Regions from separate parts of the Homo sapiens genome. Here region 2 is linked to region 1. The links come from fine-mapping of genetic effects on plasma protein levels. A gene starts in region 1. The other region holds a variant in brackets. All regions are shown on one strand. Distances are between the middles of the regions.

Region 1 (5,363 bases):
TTCTCACCTTCTAGTCTTCTTCCTGGAATTGTCCAAGTTCAAAGAAGAAATAACTGCCCTGGTTGGGAACAGCAGGCAGCAGCCTTTCTCTCAGCAACTAGGCTCGACAATCAGCCGACGGCACGTTTATTTCTATATTTTCACGTGGCAAGTTTCATCCCCATGGGTCCTAGCTCCAACCCTGGAGCTCTGGCTCCAGGGGTCAGGAGGAGAATCTGCAACCACCCTCCTGGACCCGCCCATCCCTCCCTCCCCAACAGAAATGGAACCAAGAGAGGCAGAAGCCTGAACAGCCTCAATGCAGAAGCACAGAAGATAGAGAAAACCATTGATCTTTGCAATGCATTATTGATTTTGCTGTTGTGCTGTCAGCAGCGGACGTTCCCTCCCTCCTCAGTCAAAGCTGGCCATTAGCGTGCACTCCCAAGCTTTGGCCTAGACACACCCGCTTGGTGTGGGGAAAGCGGCTCTAGGTAACATCTGCCTCCAGCGGTCCACATGGAGAGGACTGTCCACAAGTGGATGATGTCACCAAGGACATCTCCCTGGCCCCAGACCCACTGGATATCAAATGCAACATGGTCGCTGGTCTTGCACTCTAAACCTCAGCCCAGGACCCCAGGCACTCAGGGGGGTCTGTGCAAGGCTGCATTTTCAACAGACTCTGGGTGTGCTTCTCAGGAGGTGGGCCCCCTCCCATGGAGTCCCTCCCTTGTGCTGTGCTGCAAGACCTTGGGCTGGCATGGCAGCTGGGGCTCTGCATCCCCACGGTGGCCTTTTGCCTGTCTGCACTCTGAAATACAGCCACTGAGTTCCACCGTCTACCAACTCCTAAGCGGCCCACCCTCCTGGGACCCCAGGGCTGCTCCTGGCACCAGTGATGTGTTTCTATTTCTTTGTTTGACTCGCTGAGTGTACCACGTACACTCTTCTCAGTCTGAAGGTCTGGCCTTATGGGAGGGCAGTCTTTGCTCACAGAAACAGGCCAGTGCATCCCTCATCTTCCCACCCCAGCCTCCCTGGTGGGTATGCTGAGCCCGCCTGCTTTCTTCTTCTGGCTGACGACTACCAAGACATGATATACGCAGACACCAACTGTCAAAATGACAATCAGGGCATTATCATCTCTACCAGAATCCTGCCCCTGCACTGGCCAGAGCTGCCTGTTTCTGGGACACAGTAAACATTCCCAAATAACCTCGCCTGGGCAGCCAGCAGGCAGGCCCCAGGCCTAGGACACATATGAGGTGACAGGCCACTGGTGTCACGTCACCCCCAGGAAAGGAAACTTCCGTTCCGTGGCGCCTGGTGGATTTGAAAAGACTCAGAACAGCAGGGTGAGATGCTTGGCCCCAGGCCCCACGTCCAGCTTGGCCTTCGGGGGCCTGGCCACCCACGAGCCTGGGATGTGCTCAACACAGAGTGAGGTTTTCAAAACAAAAGCAAAGCAACTTCATGTGGAAAACCTTCCGGAAAGCAGGACCCAGCCCTCGACACCAGGCCTCATTTGACGCAAACTGCCCACTTACAGACTCCCATTCACCCACTCTCCCACCTACCCCCCAAAATACTAAGCCAGAAAATAGAGGACAACCACGAGTTCAACTCTCCTTTACACGTTTTTACTGGCATAACCCCAGTAGAGCCAGCCCCTTGCAGCTCACTAGGCGGCTGCAACAGGTGCAGCCCAAGCTAAGGCTTGTGGTTCTCCTGGGCTGTTCTAGAATAATGCAACCAAAACCCGAAAGGAAACCGAGGCCTGCAGCACTCACTGCCAAGGCGGCGACCTGACCACTGCGGCCCAACCTGCCCCACCTGTCTGAGTGCGCGGCGCCGGGTCCAGTGCACAGGGTCCGCGGCCTCCGCGACCAAAATAGAAGCCCGCGGGGGCCCGGCCAGAGCCCGGCTGGCCGGAGTGGGGCCTGACCTGGCGGGGCCGGACTGGGCGGGCCGGGGCGCGACGGGGCCTGGCCGAGCGCACCGCCCCCTCCCTGGCCCGGGTATGCAGCGCGCCCCCGCTCCCCCGCGCCCAGAGGAGCCACCTGCGCGCAGGGACTGGGGAGGCAACCGGGAAGGGGAGAAGGCCGGGGAGGGATAGCAGAGAGGTCCAGGGGGTCGGAGGGGTCCGGGTAGGTGTCTCTGGGAGGCGTCCCAGGAGGGGCCCCGGGGGGATCCAGGAAGGAGTCCAGGGGTCCGGGGATCCCAGAAGGAGGCTCCTGCAGGGGTTCGGGGAGGGCCCCGAGGGTCCGGTGAGGAGCCTAGGGGTGTGGAGTGGGGGCTCCGCGGAGGGTCCAGGCCGCCCCCAGCGCACCTGCCCGGCCCCGCGCGCCCTCCCTCCCGCGCCAGCCCGGCCGCTTACCTGCAGCGCGCGTCCTGCCCGCGGCGGCTCCCGGCCGGGCGAGTTCGGGCGCCAGGAATGGCGGCGGCGGCGGCGGCGGCAGCGGCGGGAGGCGGCCGGGCCGGGGAGGGGGTGGCGGGGAGGCCCGGCGGCGGCAGCGGCGGCTGGGATGCTGCGGCGCGCGAGAGCGCTGAGGCCGGCGCGGGGACGGAGTGCGCGGGGCGGGCGCGCAGGCCCCTCCTCCGCTCCCCCTCCCTTCCCGCCTCCTCCCCTTTCCCTTCCCCTTCCTCTCCCCCTTCTTCTCTTCCCTCCTATGGCCCCGCCCCTTTCTTCCTCCTTCCTCCTCCCTCCTCCTCGCCCCTGCTCACCTCCCTCCTTTCCCTCCCCCAACCTTTCTTTTCCTCCCTTCTCTTTTTCCTCCTCTTTCTTCACCTTCGCAACACTCTTCCACCTCTCTCCCCTTCTCCCCACTTTTGCTCCCCACTCCTTCCTCCTCACCTCCCATCTCTCTTGCCTCCCCGCCAGGCCCAGAGGGTTGTCCCTCAGCCCTGGGTTGGTCTCTGCTGAGTCAAGCACCCGTTCCCAGGACCAAGAGGTGCCCTGTCACCCTCTTCCTCACCAGCTCTCAATAGACAAGCTTGCCCCTTCTGGGGTCCTGGATGAACCCCACCCTTTCCAGGCCTCCCCCAAATCCCCCAGTTTTTTTTCACCCCCAGACCCTGGGCCAGCTCTTCTGAGAACCTGACCTGCAGTGTGCGTGAGGCACGTGGCACCCAGAACACTTGGCTGCTGACTTTGGGCAAGAATATTTCACACCAGGCTGCTCCCATTCCCCAGGGGAGGGGCTGGCACCACCTGGAGTCTTGGTTTCCCTGAACCCCCGTGCTAGCCTTTTGCCAAACGTTCATCATTTTCCACTCTGTATGGCAAATGGTCCTCCTGTGAGGCTGCTGGTGAGACTTGTTTGTGACTAGCCCATGGGTTTGGGGATCTGGGGGCCCTCAGAGATGGTGCTGCTCCATCCAGACCTCTTCCCTCTGCCCCCAGGAGAGGTGACAGGGCTCGCACAGTGACTGGCCAGGCTGGGAGGCCTATTGAGGAACACAGTCCTGAGAAGGGGACACAGTTTCTTACGGAACCAGCTAAGATTTCCCCTAAATGTGAGGAGTTGGGGAGCCCCTCTCCAGGCCAGGTGATACCTCCCTGGACTACAGACTGCTGTTGAGGGGCAGGGGCCCTGAGGCTGTTTTCCTGCTGAGCACTGGCTCTGAGAGCCAGAGTTTACAAATGAAGCCAGTCCCAGGCCCAACAGTCACAGAGTTAAAGGCCCAACAGTCTCAGAGTTCCGTTCTAGGGCCTCCTGTGGTTTCTGTGGTTCAGTGCCGGAGCTCTGAGAATAGGGCTTCGGCCCAGCAAAGGCTAAGATGGCAAAGCTGGTGTCAAGCAGGGTGGGGTGGAGCACGCACCCCCTCCTCCCTCTACGGCATGGCAGCCACCACCCTCTTGCTGAAGAATCCAGACCTGGAATCTGATAGACTCCCTTGACTCACAGCTCTGCAGTTTCCAAATAACCTCAGGCCTCAGCAAACCTCTGTACCCTGCAACATGAGGACAGTGTGGTCGTCCTGGAGGGTTTGGGGAGCACGGAGAGAGAATGGCAGGTAAAGCCCACTGCACCGTGTGCTCGGGTTCAGTGCTGGTGACTATTACAGGAAAAACTAGAGAAGTCTTTTCCAAGCTCTTTTCCAATTGTAGGGGTCCATGAATCCATGTTCCACATCCCATTTGGATTGAAACATAATGGGAACGGATTAGGACAGAACTGGTTTAACAGCATTCTATACCCAAGGAGGGATGCACGCTTAGGATCTACACATGCAAGCATTGCACTGATTGGGGTGGGGTGGGGGGACTCTCTTTTATTCCTCACTAGTCAGACACATCTAGAATACCATGCCCTTGCTTGGTGTCTAAGGCAGCCAGCAGTATCCCGTGGGAGGGGAGTTGACCCACCGGGAGTCTTCAGCCTAGAAAATCAATGTGTGGAGCACAAGACAGAAGAACCCCAATATGTGCAAAACTGTCCCGGGAAGAAGGATTACTCTGTGGTGTTATGAAGGGCAGAATGAGGACAGATGGGTGGAAATTAGATGAGAAAGTGGATTCCTGCCTATCGTGGGCGCTTTCTGACAGACCTCACTGTGGAAGAGCCGGCTGCCCCTACAGGAGCGTGCCCTTCACAGCCAGCGTCTAGACAGGCCTGGGGCCACCTTGGGAACACACTGCAGGGAGGGGACCAGCAGCAGAGGGGTATGCTTCTCAACAACTGCTGAATTCTCTCCTGGCTTTTAGACCCACATGCTCAGAATCTAATAGAGGGCAGCCCAGGGCAAAGAAGAGACTTTGCATGGCTGTCCTGGGGCCCACACTTCTGGCATCATGACCTTCCAGAATACTGTCCTCTCTAGCCTGTTTCCTAATGCATACAGAAGAACATGAGAGAATTCAGTAAAAACTCCAAAAAGCTTTCCGCAATGCCCAGGCTGCGAACACAAGGGCTTCTTTGCACCGTGCTTATATAAAATTGCCCCCAAACATGTTTATTGCATTCATGAAGGAGACAGGACTCTTAGTTGTAAGTGATAGAACTTCAGCCCATACTATTGGCTCACTTGCATCCAAAGATGCCCCAAGTACCATTAGAACCGGGACTTGGATGCCATTATTAGGTCTTCCTCTTCCCTCCTCTCTGACCTTCTTCCCTGTTCCCTTCTCTCAGCATGATTGCCTATGTCTCCCAAAGTGACCAAGCTTGCCTTTTTATTCTTGTTTCACACTCTGTCGTGGGACATTTCAAACATAGATATAAAAGTAGCAGGCTGGGTGCAGTGGCTCACGCCTGTAATCCCAACACTTTGGGAGGCTGAGGCAGGCGGATCACCTGAGGTCAGGAGTTCGAGACCAGCCTTGCCAACATGGTGAAACCCCGTCTCTACTAAAAATACAAAAATTAGGTGGGCATGGT
Region 2 (5,356 bases), 110 kb before region 1:
CTCTTCCTCTGCCTGTTGCTCCCAGCTGAGGGAGGAGAGGACTGACTGGGCCTGGATCCCACAAGGTGGTTGGAGGTCCCGTTAGGAGCCAGGGCCAGGGAGGCAGCCCCCTAAAGGCCAGCGTGGATGCCCGCCCACCCACCCCTGCCAAGGGCTGCTTGGGAGTATTGCAGGCCAGACCAGAGTCTCAGCCACAGGTGGAGACAGCTTTACAGATGAGACGAACCACTTCTCTTGTGGATTTTCCACGGTGACGAGTCAGCTGTATCACTATCATATCCCACAGATGCAGTCTGCACACCCCCCAAGCTCAGGGCATAAAAAGGTGTCTTCATGGAGCAGTGCCCACCTCTCCACAGCCTGTAAAGCTGCACCAACAACTCAATGACATTCCAGCAACTTCGAAGAGAAAGTCCCGTCTCCCCAGGTCTGCCTTCCTGCCTTCCCCAATTCAGATCCCACAGCTCACGGAATGGCTCTGTGTCAAACTCTGAAGGTTGGCTCACCCAGGGCAGACAGACAGAGGGGCCTGCCCAGGAGCCCGACTCCAGCTTGCCAACTCTCCTGTCACCTAGAATCAAAGCCACCGAGCGGAGAAGCCCCCGGTCCAGCTGCCTGCGTCACTTTACCTTCTTTGAAGACAGCAGCAGGGTCTGGACTGGCTCAAAGTCCTGGAAGAGCTGGGTCTCCTCGATGATGTGAACAGCGTGCTCGAGGCTGATGGCTTTGTGCAGAGCTCCCCGGTCTGCAGGGCCAAAGCTACAGGTCAGTGACACTAACCCAGACACAGAAACCAAGGACAGTGACCACAGCGGCAAACTTCACACTCTTCACTCTCAAGTCATTCCCTCCACAGATACTTAGAAAACAATGATGATTTCGCATTAGAAACAAAAAAAGGAAAAGGCTTTGGCAAAACAGACAACTGGAAACCCAAGTGTTATGGGTTATTCCAGTTTTTTTCCAAGGAAAATAAACTGTTCCATGGTTGACCCCAAGAATCCTCACCAACAGTCGACATTACACTTGAGGCTAAGTGCCACATGAGGGGGCTCCCATGCTCCACCAGCCCTCGGGGTGTCACTGGTAAGTGCCCTAGGCAGGCGGTGAGGACAGGGGGCATGTGAGGTTGGCTGGGAGGCTCCAAGGGCAGGCCACAATGCGCTGCCAGCCACCGTGGCTCCTGGCCCCTGTCCCTGTTCCAGAAGTGCTTATTTCAGAGTCCACATGCCAGGGCACATCTAAAACCTGGCTCCTCGGCCAGGAAGCAGGGACGTGGTCCTCTGCCAGCAGTCAGGAAACGCCAGGCTGACGCCTCCTCCCAGGTGGCTCACACCTGCCCCCTGCGTGGGCACTGCCCCAACTCCTCGGCGGCCAGTACTCCTCTGCCCCAGCCCAGCCCAGCCACAGGCCAGGACTTGCATTTTTATTTTTAACAAGTACCTCCAGTAGCCTGGTGGTCCCAGATCTGAAAGCCACCTGGTGTGGTGACTTCTCAGAAATCTTCTTACGCTCCCACAAACCTCCCAGGTCACCTCGAGGGAGGCAATGGAACTACTCACGAAAGAATAATTGGATTTCCCAGTTTTCCTACCAGAGGACACAGATGTGCTGTCACTGTCAAGCCTGCCAAGCCCTCGGAACCCACCTGTGCTGACAAACATGACATCATAGACAGTCCCATCCAGGGCCTGGGTCCGGTCCACCACGATCTGGGTGTAGTTCACATCTTTCTTGATTAACCTGGGCCTGTTGTCTATTGGGGTTACCGAGTCATCCATCAAAGGGTGGTCTTTAACGAACTGCAGCGTCTTGTCTGGCAAATTCAAGGAGCTGGTGTAGTTGGCGGCCCGTGCCTCGCTGTCGATGCACTGCAGGGAGAAAATCCCCGCTGTTAACGTGCTCGTGTCCCACCACGCAACGGGTGCTTCCACACAAGCAGCCAACGCAGGGGGGGCTGCAAAACCTGGAAACCACACAATGCATGCCTTGAAATGAGGGTAGCAGTGAATAACTTTACTATGAGGAAAGGTGGCCTCTCCCCAGCCAGCAGAGGACACAGTTATAAAACACATCTGCAAGACAGAATTGCATTCACGATACATACTCAGGGAAGGAATTTTTATCTATTTGTAAGTGAAAAACACTTATTGAGCTTTTGAAATTAAAAAACAGAACACTGATTTGCAGCTTTCTCATGAAAAGAATGCTAAACATGGCTAAAACCAGGACAATTTAAAATAGCATAAGAGCCTGAGGGATTCTTTTTTCCTGTTCTAGCTCCCTGATGTGTGTAAACCAAAATCTGTGACCATGAGTGAACACATTTTACGAAGCTATGCATAGAAGGAGCCATGATGGTGTCAGGGACAGCTGCCCTTGGGAGGGAGCTGGTGCTGCAGTGAACTCTGAGGGCCAGGACACCCCATGTAGGTCACAGCCCCACAGAGGGCTGTGCACATGCCTGTCACACCCATTTCCCCATGTGAGGGAAGGAATCGGCCTGGAAATTCCCAATTTCTACATAAAGTTCACTATATTTAGGAGGAAAAAATGTGACTCCTGTTGACTAGTGGACAGTGCAGAGGCCTTTGCCAAGGAATCATGTGTTTCTCTGTAAGAAACTGAAAATGAAACAGACCTAATTGTTATGCAATGTTAATTGTGCAAAACAGCTGCCCCAGCCTTCTTGTTTGTGCAATAGTGTAGCAATGGCTGTTACGTAACATGCAAAAGGGAAGAAGGATGAGCTGTGCTCATCGGCCGTCCCTGTCCCAATGCAGAGAGCCTTGGCGTGGCCAGGTACCCAGCCCATGAGCAGGCCCCAGTGCCTGTACTGGATTCCATGCCCTGGGCCTTGAAGGGAAAGCACGGCCCGCCCCCAGTGCCCCAGCTCACCGCTCCAGGCCGCGGCTTGGGTACCGGGCCATTATAGCGCACCCACTTGGTGTGGGACTGCTCCACTGTGGTGCTCTGCATGTACTTCCCGTGGGAGAAGACCTCCTCGGCTGTGGACAGGTTGTAGG[C/T]GCACACTGCCGACAGCCCCACGTTGTTCCTGGGGAGGGGAAAGAGGTGACGGGACCACCTGGCGGCATCAAGGGAGCAAGGAGGGGGACTCCACCCAGGGCACTTACAGCTGTGGGGTGAAGAGTGCATAGAACACAGGCACCTTCAGGCCCGGGGACCTGAGCACGAAGACATCCCGCAGCACATTGAAGACCAAGCCGCTGTCTGGCCGGGAGCAGATGAGTCGGGCTTTCAGGAAGGAGGTCCATTTCTTCTGCAAGGTCCTCAGGCCGCCCTGGTCCCCCTAAAACCCCAACAAGAAGACGTGGTGGGCCGAGAGTGGATCCCCTGTGAGCAAGCACTAAGGTCAGAGGTGCACCCCTCCATGGCCCAGCACAGCGCGGCTGTGCCTGACTGAAACAAAGCTCGGGCAACAGGAGACAGATGCCGCAATTATGTGAGTGGCCCGCAGCACCACGTCCAGGTTCCAGCTTGGATCCCAGAACGCTCCTGGGTTAACACACAAAACAAAACGGACAAAAGCCCTCTCACTGAAAGCTCATTTGATCGTCCATGCCTGCCTGTGCCCAGCATTCAGTCCTGCAACCGCAGAGGTGCTGCCGTGCTCACACACTTCCAACTGCCAAGGCCCCTGGCATTGTGTGACTTTCCTGACATAGGGCCCATCAATGAACATGCTCTGGGTGGGGCAAGTGGCGGCAGCCTCCTTCCAGGGGACAGCCACCGGCCCTGCAGCCTGTCTTGGGCAAATGTGTGAACCTTCCTCCCTTTAAAGGAATAGATCCTTCACTTCCTTTCTACCCAAAGTATCTGCTAAAGTGCTTTGAACCTAAGTTCTTTATAAACGCTTTTCAGGGATCCGATGACCAAGACACAATTATAAACTACACATGACTGTGTGTGGTCTGGAGAGAAATACTGAAACCACAAAACCTGAGTGCAGAAGAATATGAAATAGAAGCAGCCTTACTTATTTTGGACACAGGGAAAATGTTCCCCCTTCATCTCTGCTGTGTGATTACAGGAGCCCAAATTCTCTTTTTGATAAAAGGACTTCATTTTCCTCCTTGATGTTTTAGCAAAGAATAATTTCTAGCACATTTTTCGTCAGGGGTCTCATGTGGCTTTCAGGTCACGGGCAGCAGGTGAAGGGTTCATGTGTGCCTGCGTGGTAGGCAGGAGCTGTGGGGCCTAAGCTCAAACCACCCTAGTCCAGGAGTTCAAACAAGTATGGGGAAAAAAAAGGGATCAGAGGGGATGACAGCAGTGTGCCTAAGACTTGTAGAAACTTGTCGGGGGTGGAGGTGGCTGCTCTGTGCATCGCTGAATCTGCTCACTGATCCTGCTGCAAACCCTCAGTGCTGGGTAATAAGTCAAGGTCAAGGCAAGTCTGATCCTTGGCTTCCCGATGGCAGGGGAGGGCTCGAGTCCCCTGGCCAGTGCTGCTCTGACAGCATTCTGAGCACTGTGCACGCCTGCCAGGAGCTCTGGCCCTGCAGCACCCTCCCCATCTCAAGGGGCACTGGCTTGCCCCCAACACTGATACTGTTGATAGGATGGTTTCCTGGTCTGCAAGACAGGAGCATGGCAGCCACGGCTGCGGGGCTGCGGGGCAGCTGGAGGATCTGGTCAGTGAGCCCTGGCTACGGAAGGCCTGGGCAGGGAGCAAAGCACCAGGTGGATACTCAGGTGTGCACATCACCCAACCTTCTTCCTTATGCAAGGGGCTGTTAAGGGAACGGTGTCAAAGGCACCCACTTTTGTGCGCCATAGGCATGAAAGGAACCCTGCTTCTCTGATGTCCTGATGGTCATGACTACATGAGAAAGGGCCACGCAAGAACTATCTACCAATTTCCATGAGAGACGAATGGCTACCTGCTCCGAGATGAGCTCCTGGCCAGGGACATGGCGGCTGTGTTTCATGTGGTTTCCCCCAGCTCCCCTGAGGCCTGACAATCCACCTCCTGGAAACTGCCACTGAGCAACCTTGAGATTTCCTGTAATCAAGCCCATAGGCCATTCTCTTGTGCTGAGCACTGTGCCTACAGTGTGTCATTTTAAAGGCACCCTCCCCTTTTAATGTACTTAAAGATTTGTGTTTTGACAAACTTCTGTATTGGTTCTCTCTTCTTAATCTTAAGCTGTCGGTTAATGTTTCACTCTTAGGTAGATTAAGAGCCAAATGGTGAAATTCCAACAGACTCTGGTGAATACATTCCACAAAGCCTTGCTTTTTATAAGCTAGAGGTTTGAAGAGGGTGCATTAAAAGAAAGAACCTCCTGAGAAGAGGAGGCTAATGGGTCACACATGGGGGCCAGCACTCCCT

Which allele goes with the higher level. Alleles are on the strand shown, and positions count from the first base shown. The strength of an association depends on the size of the effect and on how common the allele is.
As copies of T replace C in region 2, the plasma level of the protein whose gene starts at base 2,554 in region 1 goes down (moderate association).

The links. PIP is the chance, under the fine-mapping model, that this variant and not a neighbour inherited with it causes the effect. The UK Biobank Pharma Proteomics Project read protein levels with antibody pairs (Olink). The fine-mapping took linkage between variants from a reference panel, not from the people measured, so its PIPs are less certain.
Region 2: its variant is fine-mapped to the plasma level of the SEMA4D protein (UK Biobank, PIP above 0.99). The variant lies in the coding sequence of SEMA4D. If it changes the protein, the assay may bind it differently, which can mimic a change of level.

The regions. Positions count from the first base shown.
Region 1 is chr9:89,495,560-89,500,922 of GRCh38, forward strand. SEMA4D (semaphorin 4D) reads right to left here and starts at 2,554. Exons shown (of 16, transcript NM_001371194.2): 1 at 2,360-2,554. RefSeq lists silencers at 1,874-2,023, 2,454-2,643.
Region 2 is chr9:89,385,738-89,391,093 of GRCh38, forward strand. It overlaps SEMA4D (semaphorin 4D), which reads right to left. Exons shown (of 16, transcript NM_001371194.2): 10 at 3,135-3,310; 11 at 2,899-3,055; 12 at 1,649-1,871; 13 at 630-745. Among named protein-coding and RNA genes, the nearest start is that of SECISBP2, 70 kb to the left of the region's middle. RefSeq lists an enhancer at 3,678-3,847. The variant C/T (reference allele first, on the strand shown) is at 3,027.